4 linked regions of the Homo sapiens genome follow. The protein of the gene in region 3 interacts with the protein of the main gene of each other region in a pairwise test. Each region holds a gene or a part of one and is shown on either strand. Other genes may lie near its edges.

Evidence for each region. Proteins that work in one complex are often made in the same cells at the same time.
Region 1: the proteins of SNCAIP (region 3) and AGXT interact in a two-hybrid assay, tested with the Homo sapiens proteins (one large-scale study listed by IntAct).
Region 2: the proteins of SNCAIP (region 3) and NUDT21 interact in a two-hybrid assay, tested with the Homo sapiens proteins (one large-scale study listed by BioGRID and IntAct).
Region 4: the proteins of SNCAIP (region 3) and PTN interact in a two-hybrid assay, tested with the Homo sapiens proteins (one large-scale study listed by BioGRID and IntAct).

Annotation. Positions count from the first base shown.
Region 1 is NC_000002.12:240,867,649-240,871,623, reverse strand, and holds the start of AGXT (alanine--glyoxylate aminotransferase), read right to left. Parts: upstream 2,801-3,975; 5' UTR 2,759-2,800; coding exon 2,594-2,758; intron 2,455-2,593; coding exon 2,262-2,454; intron 981-2,261; coding exon 916-980; intron 276-915; coding exon 175-275; intron 1-174. UniProt on the Homo sapiens protein: Peroxisomal aminotransferase that catalyzes the transamination of glyoxylate to glycine and contributes to the glyoxylate detoxification.
Region 2 is NC_000016.10:56,441,333-56,444,832, forward strand, and holds part of NUDT21 (cleavage and polyadenylation specificity factor subunit 5), read right to left. Parts: intron 1-3,500. UniProt on the Homo sapiens protein: Component of the cleavage factor Im (CFIm) complex that functions as an activator of the pre-mRNA 3'-end cleavage and polyadenylation processing required for the maturation of pre-mRNA into functional mRNAs.
Region 3 is NC_000005.10:122,310,902-122,315,036, reverse strand, and holds the start of SNCAIP (synphilin-1), read right to left. Parts: upstream 2,801-4,135; 5' UTR 2,753-2,800; exon of another isoform or gene 2,117-2,752; intron 1-2,116. UniProt on the Homo sapiens protein: Isoform 2 inhibits the ubiquitin ligase activity of SIAH1 and inhibits proteasomal degradation of target proteins. Isoform 2 inhibits autoubiquitination and proteasomal degradation of SIAH1, and thereby increases cellular levels of SIAH.
Region 4 is NC_000007.14:137,333,734-137,337,233, forward strand, and holds part of PTN (pleiotrophin isoform 1 precursor), read right to left. Parts: intron 1-3,500.

The sequences.
Region 1 (3,975 bases), on a different chromosome or scaffold from region 3:
TCTTTAGACTCAGCCCAGAGCAAAGAGGACCTGGGAGGTGCCTGCACCCCATACCATGTGACAGAGGCTGGGGTGGGGACCAGGGGCAGAAGGACCAGAGGGACCAGTGCCCACCCCTCCCCATAGCCTGGCTCTGAGCTGTGCTCCAGTCCACCGCCCTGGGGCCAGGCTCACCTGTGGCAGAGTTCCCCGAAGCCATCAAGGGGCTGCAGCACGCCGGTGGACGACTCCCCGTGGGTTAAGAACAGCAGCACTGGCTTGTGCTGGGCCAGGCCCTGAGGAAGCAGGGACGGCTGTGGGTGGAGCTCAGAGGGGCAGGGGCCAGAACACCCCCACAAACCCCCCATGGGTGGCACAGCTCCAGGTAGCAGGGGCTGGGCCTGCCTCTACTCCTCCCTGATGGTGTGCATGGGAGGAGGAGGCTGGGGCATCTCCGCTCCGGGACAAGGGCTTTTCCAAGAACAGGACTTTGGTGCAGAGATGGAGGAGGGTGCCCCCAGCCTGTTGCCTGGCCTGTGAGGGCTGTTGCTAGATGGACTGAGTCCCCACACTCCGGGTAGGCTGAGGTTGACTTCAGCCCACAGGGTGGGGTATCCTGAGTGTCAGGGACATGTTCTGCAGCCTAGACTCCAACTCGGCCTCCTGCCTCCAGCCTCTCTGGCCCTGCCTACAGGACCAGGCTCCTGACTCAGTTTCCCTGCCAGACAGAAGCCTCCTTACCAGTCTTCCCACCATTCCCAGGTAATGGAACCCTCCCCTGTGGCCGCTCACCAGATGCTAGGATGGGCTGAGGGTCAGCCACCAGCCTCCCGGCCATGATCCCACCCTGCTGGCTGGCCAATTCCAGGCAGCCCCTGAGCCAGCATGCCCACTCCCACCTCCTCCCGGCCCTGACCCCCACCCCGGGTCCCCTACCTCCTCCACCTCCTGCAGTGTGTAGTGGCCTCCAGGGTCCTTGGTCATCGGGTGCACTCGGGCTCCTGGGTGCAGGACAGAGTGGGCCGTGAGTGTCCCGCACACACTGTAGAAGCCAGTGTTGGGCACCCGTGGCCCTGCTGAGCAGGGCCCTGTGAGGGCTGGACCCCACCCACCGTGGCACCCTGGCTGCCTGCCTGAAGAGGAGGGTGGACTCTGCCCAATGAGAGCCTCTCTGTGTGTAGAGCCAGGGCCATCTTGACCCCCCTGCTGTTGGAGCCAACGCTCCTGGGGCACTCTTGACAGAGCTCAGCTCAAATGCCCTTTCTCAGGCCACACTGACCAGTGCCTCCCCAAGCAGAGAGTGAGCTCCCGGGAGTCAGGGCTGCACCTGGCCCAGGGCTGGCACAAAGAGTGTACCTGGTCCAGGGCTGGCACACCACAGGTGTGATGGATGACAGACTGAAGGATGAGGGGTGAGTGAGGCAGCAGCCTTGACCTCTGTTGGAGCTGGGGACTCCAGGAATCAGGCCCTCACCCCCTCCCTGTCTCTGCCCTATCCTGTGTGCTGTTCAGGGCCAGGTTGTGGGAGGGGAAGAACCTGCGGCCAAGGGGACAGAATGGGGAAAAGGGAAGCCATATACCACAGGCATCTGAGCCTGCGTGCCCTGATGTCCACTTGGGGTCCTGGCCTCTGCCGACCCTGGGTCCCCTTGAAAAGTTTGTGGACTTGGGGTTGGGACCCTCTTGGCTGTTGCGGTCGCGTATTAACCAGCATGGCCATTGTGGAGCTCACCAAGCTGATGTCCCTCAATGCCACAATCAATCATTAAACCCAGGGCACACTCCTGCTCCTGTGTCTCTCCCAGAAAAGTGTACTCCGGAGGCGAATACTCTGCCCATACCTCCATATTTTGTGTATCACATCAAGATTCCAGAAGGAAGGCTGCTGAGATTTGAGGGGAGGCTTCAGCTTCTGAAACCCCACCCTGTCACAAAGCAGAGCTGGTGCCTGGGGCCCTGGACAGCGGCCGGGGCTCTCAGGAGTGTGTGCTGGGACCAGAGGCTTCCCTGTAGTTCCGTCCTGCACATGCTCCAGAAACAGCTCAAGGAGACTGGGGGGATCGGGGCACCTGTGCTGCTCCCAGCCCTATCAGAGTCAGGCCTCATGAGTGCCCGACACCGCCTGGAGGAGGCAGTGGGCTGGCAGGAGGTTCGTGCGCACAGGGCCACAAGGTGGGTAAGCGCTCACCCAGGAACGGGGGCTGCCAGCTTCAAACAGAGGGAGGCCAGGGAGGCCTTGAAGGATGGATCCAGGGCCATCCCCACCTGGGCCTCTCCCTTACCTATGCGCTCCCCGATGTCCACGGCTCGCTGCCCCCAAATGCCATTGGCCCCAACCAGGAAGGAGTCCCCAGGCTCCAGCACATTGACCAGGGCGGCCTCCAGGGCACAGTGTCCCGAGCCAGAGATGACCAGTGTGAGTGGGTTCCTGGTCTGGAACACGTACTGGATGCCTTCCTTGATCTCGTCCATGATCTGCATGCGGGTGGTATAGGGTGAGACCCAGGCTCCCCGCCTCCCCAAGTGAGGAGGCAGTGACCCCCTTCCCTCGTCCACGATCTGTGGGTGGGAACATGGGTGAGACCCAGGCCCCCCGAGTGACCCCCACTCCTACCTGGTACATATCCTTGCTCATGGACCCGATCATCTGCAGCCCCCCGGCTGCCATGATGCGAGGAGGCAGGTTGGAAGGACCAGGCCCCAGCAGGAGCTGGTTGGGGATGGAGAGGGGCTTGAGCAGGGCCTTGGGGGGGGTCACCAGCAGCTTGTGAGAGGCCATGGTCCGCACCCAACCTGCCGCTCGGGAACCTGGGGCTGCACTGGCCTTGGCCAAAGCCTGGAATATTTCCCAGCAGGGCGGACACAGAGGTGAGAGGTGAGGATTGGTGGATGGGCTTCCGTGGCAGCCCTGCCTTTTGTTCCCTGAGGCTTATCTGTGCTTGTGCTGCGGGTCACGGCCAGGCAGCAGGGGACGAAGCCCTCAGGCAGAGGGAGCCCCCAGGGCTGAGTGACAGAAAAACAGAGTGTGACAAAGCTGTCCTCACCCCAGCCCTCCTCGCTCCCACTCTGAGTCCTGCACGTCCAGCCCCTCTTATTCTGCTTAGCTCAGGGGTGAGAGAAGTGTTTCTTAAAGGGTCGGAGCACAGATAATTGAGGCTTGGCAGGCCCTGTGGTCTATGTTGCAACAACTCAACCCTGCTGCGTGCTTGCAAAGCAGCTGCCAGAGGTGTGGGCGTGTTCCTATAAAACTTTATTTACAAAAAGCAGGTGGCAGGCCAGATTGGGCCCATGGACTGTGGTTTGCTGACCCTGGCGCAGCTGATGGGAAGGCTTGTAAACCAAAAATAAAATTCGAAGGCCCCCCAGCAACCATCTGAATGGGGTTCCCTGTCCGCCAGGGTGCTCTAAACTTTAACCCGGAAGACGTTCAGGCCATGCCACATCATAACCCCCAGCATTAACATCGACATAGACCTTAAGTCTGATAGGAAGCATTTACCATCTATTTTCTCTCTAAATCCCGCTACCTGAAGGCATCATCTGCTCCCTGCAACCCCTATTTCATAACCCAGACACTCCTTTCTGCTGATAATAATTCTTCAGTCAGTTGCCAATCAAAATATGTTTAAATCTACCTATGACCTGGAAGCCCCCCAATTCAAGTTGTCCCGCCCTTCCAGATGGAACCAATGTAAATCTCCCATGTATTGATTGATGCCTCATATCTCCCTAAAATGTATAAAAGCAAGCTGTGCCCCGACCACCTTGGGCCCTTGTGGTCAGGGGTGCACCCTTGAGCTTGGCAAGGATGTCCTCCCTCCTGAGGCTGTACCACGGGTGCATCCTTAGCCTTGGCAACAAAAACTTTCTAAATTAATTGAGACCTGTTTGAGGTACTTTTTGGTTTACAGGCTCAATTTAGCAAGCAAACCTGCATGGTATACAGACACACACAAGGCAGGGGTTGCACAGTGAGTTTCAGCATGCTGCATTCCA
Region 2 (3,500 bases), on a different chromosome or scaffold from region 3:
TCCAAGCGACTCCCCTGCCTCAGCCTCCCGAGTAGCTGGGACCACAGGTGCCCGCCACCACACCCAGCTTTTTTGTATTTTTAGTAGAGACAGGGTTTCACCATGTTGGCCAGGATGGTCTCGATCTTTTGACCTTGTGATCCACCTGCCTCGGCCTCCCAAAGTGCTGGGATTACTGGCGTGAGCCACTGCGCCTGGCCTCTTGATTTTCATTTTAAAAACATTTTTTAAAAGCCTATAACCCTCTACTATGAATGAGAATTTAGATATTAAAATCACACATCCTAGTTACACTTTTTCTTCCACCATCTTCCCATTATCAATATTTGGTTAAGTCAATATTCAGTATTTAAGTTAGTATGATCCGGTAGATCAGTCACAACAGAGCAATGATTAGCAAACCGTATCTCCTTACTTGTTCAACTGTCCTATTCTTTAGTTAATAACTTTCATTTCCTTTGCTATCACTAAATTCATTTCCCACATTCTCCATGATAACTTAAATTTCTTCCCAATTCAAATATCAATTGTCAGTTATTCTATTAATTTCATCTTTTCTAAGACATGTTTTTCCTTTTTTCAAGACAAGATCTGTCACCCAGGCTGGAGCGCAATGGCGCGATCTCCACTCACTGCAACCTCCACCTCATGGGTTCAAGCGCTTCTCTCACCTCAGCCTCCCCTGCCCCCAGCCTCCCGAGTAGCTGGGACTACAGATGCAAGCCACAGCACCAGGCTAATTTTTCACCATGTTGCCAAGGGTGGTCTCAAACTCCTAGGCTCACGTGATCTGCCCATCTCAGCCTCCCAAAGTGCTGAAATTGCAGGCATGAGCCACCACACCCAGCCTAAGACACGTTTTTCTATCATCCTGCTGTAATCTGTACTTGATAGTCTCAACCCTGCTTCACAGCTGGAGTCCTTATTTTATTCCATTTTGGGGGTGAACACCCTCTAGTAGCTTCCTGAGAAAAGGTACAAGAGATGTAACTTTTTGAAACTCTGCATGTCTAGAAGTAACTTTTACCCACACACTTGATTTATAGTTTGATTAGAAAATTCTAGGACAGAGATTATATTCTCTCAAAATTACAAAGACAACACTCCACCATCCCTTAGCTTCCAGAATTATTTCTGGGTAGTTTAATGCAATTTCTGATTTTGATGTTTTGCATTTAACCTCTCTGCTTACCAATCCTCCACCTCCCACTTTGGAAGCTTTTACATCTTTTTGTTTTTATTTTCGTTTGTAGGATCTAAAACGTCATGATGATATGCCTTTGCGTGGATCTTTAAACATTCACTATAGAGGCAAGGCCAGTAGGTCTTCTCAATCTCAAAACTCATGCCCTTTGAGGTTTGAGAAATTTTCTCTAATTATGCTTTGCTAATTCTTCCTTTTACTCTGTTCTATTTATCTATAGTTTATATTGGTCCTTCTAGAATGACCCACTAATTTTATCTATTCTTACCTACATTCTATCTTTTTATCTTTTCATTCTATTTTCTGGTAGAATGAACCTCTTAACTCTTTACTGAATTTTTCATTTCTTCCAACATTTTTTTAATATCCATGAGGTTTTTCTTGGCTAAAATGTCTTTTTAATAGCACTGTTTCACAGGTGCAAAATCTCCTCTCATCTCACCAAGAATATTAATCATAGTTTTGTCAATGGTTGAATTTTCTGCTTCTGTTGAGGTCCTTTTGCTTCTTTTGATCTTTTTCTTGTTAAGAAGTTTTCTCCAAAAGCCTGGTGATAGTTGGTTGTGTACTCACAAGGGAGAAGCAACAAGATGCTTAATTGTCACCTCTGTGTGCATGAGTGATAGGACTACAATATTTTTTTTTCTTTTTTTTTTTTGAGACGAAGTCTTGCTCTGTTGCCCAGGCTGGCGTGCAGTGGCATGATCTTGGCTCACTGCAACCTCCACCTCCTGGGTTCAACTGATTCTCCTGCCTCAGCCTCCCGAGTAGCTGGGATTACAGGCACCCGCCACCACGCCCAGCTAATTTGTTTATGTTTGTAGAGACGGGGTTTCACCATGCTGGTCAGGCTGGTCTCAAACTCCAGACCTCATGATCCACCCGCCTTGGCCTCCCCAAGTGCTGGGATTACAGGTGTGAGCCACCGCGCCTGGCCCAGGACTACATTATTTCTATAGAAAATTCTTGCTTTGGTTTGGATATGGTTTGTCTCCCTGCCCCCAAACTCATGTTGAAATTTGATCCCCAATGTGACAGTGTTGGCAGGCAGGGCCTAGTGGAAGGTGTTTGAGTCATGCAGGTGGATCCTTCATGAATAGTTTAATACCCTTCCTCCATCAGGAATGGATTAGTTCCCTGGAGAGAGGGTTGTTAAAGAGTGTGGCTTCCTGGATTCACTCTTGCTTCCTCCCTTGCCATGTCTCTTTGCACATGCCCACTCCCATTTTGCTTTCTGCCATGAGTGGAAGCACCATGAAGCCCTCACCAGCTGCCCAATCTTGCCACCAGAACTGGTGAGCCAAATAAATCTTTTTCTTTATAAATTACCCAGCCTCAGGTATTCTGTTATAGCAACATTAAACAGACGAAGACAGCTCCCAAATGGCAGTATCTGAAGTTTTTCTTGGACTGGTCACTTTTTCCAGAAACAAGAATTCCAACCCTCAGCCTGGGATATATAAATCTAATTGTTGGCTGGGCCTGGTGGCTCATGCATGTAATCCCAATGCTTTGGGAGGACTGCTTCAGGCCAGGAGTTTGAGACCAGCCTGGGCAACATAGCACGATCTCATCTCTATAAAAAACTTTTCTTTAATTAGCCAGGCATCATGGGCACATACCTGCAGTCCTAGCTACTCAGGAAGCTGAGGCAGGAAGATTGCTTGAGCCCAGGAGTTTGTGGTTACAGTGAGCTATGATCACACCACCATCCTCCAGCCTGAGGAACAGAGTGAGACCCTGTCTCTAAAAAAAATAAGTAAGCCTAGACTGACAGTGGCTCACACCTGTAATCCCAACACTTTGGGAGGCCAAAGCAGGCAGATCACCTGAGGTCAGGAGTTCGAGACCAACCTGGCCGACACGGTGAAACCCCATCTCTACTAAAAATATAAAAATTAGCTGGGCATGGTAGTGGGCACCTGTAATCCCAGCTACTCTGGAGGCTGAGGCAGGAGAATCGCTTGAACCCAGGAGGCAGAGGTTGCAGTGAGCAACCATTGCTCACATTGGAGATCACGCCACTGCACTCCAGCCTGGGCGACAAGAGTGAAACTCCGCCTCAAAAAAAAAAAAACAAAAACAAAAAAAAAAAAAAACAAGCCTAATTGTTAACATTCTGTCAGCCTAATAGAGGTCCAAGAGTCTGACTATTCAGAATAGGAACTCTTATTCTCCCCATCCCCTAAACTTTTTTCATTGCTAGTTGTTCTCTGATTCAATTACTACAGAGAATCATCAGCCAGTCTTTGCCTAATTACAGAGTGGGGAAGACAATCTAGATACACAGGTTGAA
Region 3 (4,135 bases):
TCTCTCCTCAGAATTCCTTTTCAATTACTATTTAGCATCTTAGGCACTCAATTATGAAATGTGTTCTTCGATGTTTAGTATCATTTAATTTTCCATGGGTCCTATTTCCTATGAAAATGTTCCTTACGAAAAGACTATGGATTTTAAATTGCTGTATTACAAATAAGCACAAAGTAAATGCACGATAACTATTTAGGAATCAATTAGTACTTTCCCAGGGCCTAGCTATCAGTCTTATCAATTAAAAATTATTTTAACACATATTTTGATCATTAATTTCAAAAACGTAAAAAACCGCTAAGATGCAAACCATAAAATATAAATCTAGTTACCTAATCTATAAAGTGAAAAATCATGCATAGTACATATGATACTAGCAAACAAGTTTTTGATTCATTTTCCATAAATAACTTCCTGCAAGTGAATCTGCATATAAATCAAATGGGCACAAGAAAATAAGTATATAAGGGTAAAAGTTTCACAGAAGCAACTATTTGATTTTCACCAGGATATCATTTTTCTCCCAAGACACATATTTCTCCTATGTGGTTTGCAACTGTAACCTGACAAACTGCCAAAAACAAAGCTTCTATTCTAAGAGTGTTACTGATTCTCTTGTTGCTATTCAATTAGATTTTGCATTTAAAAGAGAAATTCCCTTGTGTTTCCTATAATGATGCACCTGCTCCTTGGGAGATTTCCTCTTTTGACAAGAAATGCCTTAAATCTGGCAAGAAAAACAGCTCCAGGCTTTTTCTGCTAATATCAAAGATCATTTGTTTGTATTAGATGTTTGTGTGGGTTTCCCTTAAGAGCAGTAAAGTACTGCTACAATTTCTTCCAAAACAATAGCACGCACAAAGTTTCTTGGCTTGCATTTCCACTGTACACCTGCACCAGAACAACTGTCTGGAATTAGGAAAGTTGTGACAGAGTAGACAGAGAAATGCATTTGCTTTAGTCACTTCCTTTTGGATATCAACAAATGGTAACCGTCAAATTCATGAATGCAGCATCATTTCAAATCTACTATCTGTAACTTTTCTTCATGAAATGCTTGCTACGGAGAAAATGAAATTTACATTCAAAATTATACCCCTTCTTTTCAAAATCCCATGCTATATTTTATTTCTAACTGAGGTGTCCAAAAGATCCTTAAGAGAAGCACTATCTTTTACTTTCTGATTCCAGACCTGTTAATGCATACATATTTAGTTATGGGTAATCCTCAGTTAATACTCCCTTTCCAGAGAGACTTCCGCGATCAGTACCGAAATATTGCACCTTCCAAAAAGTCTTGAGGACTGCTTAAAGGTGTCTCCTTGTACTCTAACCATGCTGAATGTAATTTAACATTGAGATGCATCAGAAACAGTCAATAGACTTTCTCTCCCAGATGTGTACACATTAGCATACTGCTTTCCTACACCTTGTTCTTTGCCTTTTAAATTTTCAATATGTACAAATGAAATACAGATTTCAACCCATTCCCAATTGGGATGTCTGCTCCATAAAAGAAAAATAGGTTTTTCCCTTCCTACAGATTCAGCAACGAAAGTAGTGCTTGAAAATTACGTGTTTAGAGTGACACCTTGGAGAACTGACATACTGTGCACACATGTAATCCTCATAAACTTCCCCAGACAGCCCTTATTTCATTTTGCAAACTGCACCCTGGCCAGGCTCCACGGCACGTGGTGTGTGGCGAGACTGTCCTGCAGCAGTTCTCCCGTCCTCCGGGCTCTTTGATGGGCACTTGTCAGTAACAGCCAAGAGGAATCCGATCCTGCCTCCAGCAAGTGAAAAGGGGCACCGACAGTAATGCTTCCTTAATTAACTTTCCCAAGGAAAGCAACGTTCCCACAGGAAAAAACAACACGTTTCCCCCCTCCTAGCCGTCCATTGAAAATGAGCAACAATGCTGTTGCCTTTTTGTTTCCTAAGACTTTCTTCGCTGCAAGCAGTAGCGTGTTCCTCAAAGAATGCTAGTATTTCCTGTGGAAACTGTATGGCTGCCAGTAATGGCTCATAATTTTCCCTCTTTTCTCTTCGTAAAAATGAAATAAACAAAATGTGGCCTTTGACAATTAGCTAAAATTGGGTTCACCCCACTTACCACCTGCAGATGAAAGTCATCGCCAAGAGACAAGGCCAAGAGAGAAACATTCCCCTCTGAAATCCACGCGGACCAGCCTGGGACGCAGAACAGCACTAGAGGGAGGCTGGCGGAGCCCGGGCTGGACAGGGCAGTCGGGGAGCTGGTGCTGATGAGCGAGGGGCGGCAGCAACACCAGACGTCCCTTTTCTACAGCTATTATTACCGTTGTTAGTACTGTCGCTATTACTATTACTTCGCCCCTCCTTATCTCAGCTTTTCCGAGCCGCGGAACTGCCCATCCCTGCCTGCGATAAGATCCCGGGTGACAGCAAGAATAAGAACCACATGAGGCGGGCAAATGAAAAGAACAATCCTTTGGAAACCGAGGCGGGGGTTGTTTCCCCCTTTCCCCAGTAAAGCAGCCGCTGCCGCCACCACTGTTACTGTTACTATAGAGACCTCCCCCTCAAACCCTTTCTGCAGAGGCGCCTCTGCTGCCCGGAGCAGCCGAGACTCGCGGCACAAAGGGGTCCCGGGGCTTGGGGAGCACGGGGCGACACCCGCCGGGGTCGCCTGGTGCAAACTTGGAAAGGCTGAGCCGCTGGCTGCCCGCCTCCCGCCTCCCCGCGGCGTCCGCTTGGGACCTGGACTCACCCGGGGCGCCCGGCGCGCCGGCGGCTCAGGAGCGCGAAGGGACTGACTGACCGACCGACGGACCGCAGCGGCAGGAGCAGAACAGCCTCAGCCGAAGTAGGCGGGCGGTGGAGGCGCTGCCGCGGCCCCGCTACGTCACAATGCGGCCCGGCCGCGGGCGCCGCTCCCCGGGCCCCCCAACGGGCGCGCGCGGGCGGGGGCAGCCTGGGCGGCCGCGGCCCGAAGCCGGCGCTGGGGGACAAGGAACGCAGCGCGGGCGCCCGGCCGGGGACGGGGGCGCGGCCACCACTGCCACTGCGGAGGCTGCCGGGGCCGCCGCGCCCTCAGGCTGCGCTGCGCCCCTGCGGCCGCCCCCAGGCCAGCGAGCCCCGCTCGGCCTGACTGACAGCGACCCTCCCCGCGGCGCCCCCGGCTCGGCCCACGCCCCTCCCTCGCCGCTTCCTCACCAGGGATCCCCCGGCCTGCCCGCCGGCTCCTGTCCACGAACCTGCTCTTTCTTTACCTTTCGCTCTTTTTACCTCGACTGCCGTTGCTTTTCCCCAGCTGGGGCTCTCCTCTCCTCCCCGCCTACTTTTTGTCCGCGCTTCCCACTTTTCTCCTCCTGCCCCCCACCCCCTTCCTTGCTTCTTGGCCTCTCCCCCTGGAAATCGCCCCCTCACCGTGATCCAAGCGTTAACCGCTGCCATCTCATTGGTCCCCAGACCATTCCAGGGTTCCAGCATAAACTGGGAGAAGAGACTCGGGAAGGCGGGGAACGGAAGGTGGGCATTGCCCTGGGAAACTCATGTCTGAGAAGCCTTTTGGCAGAGTATTTTGCGTTGGCACGGAGTCTTCACCCCCACCCCTCCCCCCGAAGCTCGCCCACCCCTGAGGACGTGGCCAAGGAGAGGAGGGCAAGGGTGGCTTTGCCTGCCTGGAATGTTCTGTGCTCAAGTGTGGGTGGATGGAGAAGATGTTAGGCTGAAATAAAGACTTTTTAATTCAACGACGTTTCAGTGTACCAATGGCCCTACAGTAATATTATCTTTACTTTTATTGTCTCTTAATTGTTGAGGGATTGGGGGTGGGAGGCTGCTGGATGAGGCGTAAGCAACGCCTGCAGTGGTGACTACTTCTTTCCTTATTTCCGAAATGAAATCAGGGGTTGTGGAAGCATTTATGGTAACCTTGGCTCGCGACTGTCTCGCTGTTGCCCTCTGGAAAGCTTTAAATGGTCTTTGAGAAATCTCTTTCCCAGGCGAGATGACTTGGAGAAGTTCACTCAGCAAAGCCATTGAGGACCACACTCTTGTTCCAGGGTATGGCTGCTTGCCTGATGCTGCCCCAGAGAAAAGCATGAGGAAGTAAGTCTTGGTCAGTTTAGAGGCATCCTCATTCCCATGC
Region 4 (3,500 bases), on a different chromosome or scaffold from region 3:
GTCAATTCTAAGCCAAAAGAACAAAGCTGGAGGCATCACGCTACCTGACTTCAAACTATACTACAAGCCTACAGTAACCAAAACAGCATGGTACTGGTACCAAAACAGAGATATAGATCAACGGAACAGAACAGAGCCCTCAGAAATAACACCACATATCTATAACTATCTGATCTTTGACAAACCTGAGAAAAACAAGCAATGGGGAAAGGATTCCCTATTTAATAAATGGTGCTGGGAAAACTGGCTAGCCATATGTAGAAAGCTGAAACTGGATCCCTTCCTTACACCTCATACAAAAATTAATTCAAGACGGATTAAAGACTTAAACGCTAGACCTAAAACCATAAAAACCCTAGAAGAAAACTTAGGCAATACCATTCAGGACATAGGCATGGGCAAGGACTTCATGTCTAAAACACCAAAAGCAATGGCAACAAAAGACAAAATTGACAAATGGGATCTAATTAAACTAAAGAGCTTCTGCACAGCAAAAGAAACTACCATCAGAGTGAACAGGCAACCCACAAAATGGGAGAAAATTTTCACAACCTACTCATCTGACAAAGGGCTAATATCCAGAATCTACAATGAACTCAAACAAATTTACAAGAAAATAACAAACAACCCCATCAAAAAGTGGGCGAAGGACATGAACAGACACTTCTCAAAAGAAGACATTTATGCAGCCAAAAAACACATGAAAAAATGCTCACCATCACTGGCCATCAGAGAAATGCAAATCAAAACCACAATGAGATACCATCTCACACCAGTTAGAATGGCAATCATTAAAAAGTCAGGAAACAACAGGTGCTGGAGAGGATGTGGAGAAATAGGAACACTTTTACACTGTTGATGGGACTGTAAACTAGTTCAACCATTGTGGAAGTCAGTGTGGCGATTCCTCAGGGATCTAGAACTAGAAATACCATTTGACCCAGCCATCCCATTACTGGGTATATACCCAAAGGACTATAAATCATGCTGCTATAAAGACACATGCACATGTATGTTTATCGCGGCACTATTCACAATAGCAAAGACTTGGAACCAATCCAAATGTCCAACAATGATAGACTGGATTAAGAAAATGTGGCAAATATATACCATGGAATACTATGCAGCCATAAAAAATGATGAGTTCATGTCCTTTGTAGGGACATGGATGAAATTGGAAATCATCATTCTCAGTAAACTATCGCAAGGACAAAAAACCAAACACTACATGTTCTCACTCATAGGTGAGAATTGAACAATGGGAACACATGGACACAGGAAGGGGAACATCACACTCTGGGGACTGTTGTGGGGTGGGGGGAGGGGGGAGGGATGGCATTAGGAGATATACCTAATGCTAAATGACGAGTTGATGGGTGCAGCACACCAGCATGGCACATGTATACATATGCAACTAACCTGCACATTGTGCACATGTACCCTAAAACTTAAAGTATAATAATAATAAAAAAAAAAGAATGAAGTTTTCTAAACACTTTTCATTAGCTTTTAAAGCAAATGAAGAAGGCAACATTTGGATCACTTACACCCTCTCCGAGAAAGACCCCAGCAGAAGCACTGGTAAGGAGGCCCAAGTGCAACATCTGGCCAGGGGCTTTTTACACTTAAGGGAACTTCAGTGAAGTCAATAGCAAATCAGGTGGTGTCTGCAATTTTCTTTCATAAATAATCATACATTGTAAATATTATTTGGTCACAAAGATGTAAGTTTTAGAAGCTTTTGCATATAACATATTGACAATGATCCTCATCATTTTTATTAAGCTATGGACATCATGACTGGAGCATTCTGATTTGTCTCCTGTTCCCTCAAGTTTGTTGAATTAAACTGTTGTGGCTTGCTACTCAAAGAGAGGTCGCCAAGCTAGCAGTACTGCAGTCACCTGGGAGCTTGGCAGAAAAGCAGACTCTGAGATTTCATTGGAGACCTACTGAATTTTGGCAAAGACCCTGGGTGACTGGTATGAACATGAAAGTTTGAGAAGCACAGTTATCCAGCTATCATGTAAATGAACTGCTGTTAGCCAATTACTAAGGCTTATATTTAGTGAGAATAACCAATTAAAAAATGTGACATGTAGCTTTTAAGACACTTCAGAAGGAAATATAACATAATCTGAGGTAAAAGAAAGCATGCCTGTTTCAGTTCAGCCTCATTTAAGATGTCTTCTCGCTTTTTTTTTTTTTTTTTAGTATGACTCATTTCTTTTTCTTCATTCCTGTCGCACATCTTACCTCCTCCTCACTTTGTGAGTCAAACTTACCTTCAAGCAACTTAGGCAATCTCTGTGTGTCCTGAGAAAATGACAATGACAATAGCAGGATTGGGAAACCAGAAAGGCAGAACTTGCCCCACTGACTTTATTAAGTTCAGTTCATGTTCAGTATAACAGTTTAGAGCTTACAGATGTTGCGTCGTGACCATTGACATTTACCACCAACCTATGAGGTTGGCAAAACAAGTAACATCATCATCATTTCCCACTTAGAGCTAAAAAACCTAAGATTTCAGAAGATTCAGTGGCACATCCAGCAGCCCATACCAAACAACAGGCGGACTGTGGTGAGATGCTGGTTCCTGACTCCAAACCTTAACTCCTTCCCTGGACTGAAGCCTCTATCAGCAGGGGTCAGAGAGAATGTGGTTATGAGCATCACTAAGGTCAGCAATAAAGTGCCTGTCTCTTGGATTGGGAGTCTTCTGTATGCAAAATGCTCTCCTATACCTTATGGGAAGGGATAAGGTCAAAGAGTCTGCATCGGAGACTTTGCCTGCCCAACCCCCAGGCCTTGAGCATGATCACATGCTCCGTATGTTTTCTTCCAGAAGAAAGGATTTTCAATCTGCATTTAGAGAGAAGGAAGAAAATGGTATGAGCATGTGGAGGGGCGAGGCCTTTCAAGAAGCATGGAATTCCACCTAGGATTTTGCTTGTATGTTTGTTGCAGATGCCAAGTGGGCATGAGAAAGAAAAGCAATTCAGGAGGGGGAAGAAGTGAGGACTTGCATCTGGTGCTGCTTCACCATGATCATCATTTTCACCATCCTGCTCAAACACTCCCAGCAATCAGACTCTATGTTCAGTACTTCACATTGATTTTCTCAATTACTACTCAGACGTCAATCCTGGAAGGTAGGTATGTGCTCCCATGTTAGAGATGAAAACACTGAAGTAAGAAAGACCACAATATTTGCTCACGGTCACAGAGCTACTAAGAAGTGCAGTGGTTTATACCTCAGTATTTTGGACCTTGGAGCTCAAATATTGAGCGATTAAGGCTACTGTTTCTAATGTTTCATCCGTATCCACATGCCCTGTCGTATGTCCAGGGTCCTTGATTCCACCTCTTAAATCAGAACTGCTGAAGATGGGCTCCAGGCAGCTGGAACCTACACATGACGCTAGTTAATCTGATAAACATTGAAGACAGGGAACTGCTGCTGTAGGTTATTTGACCTCTAACTGTACATACATTGG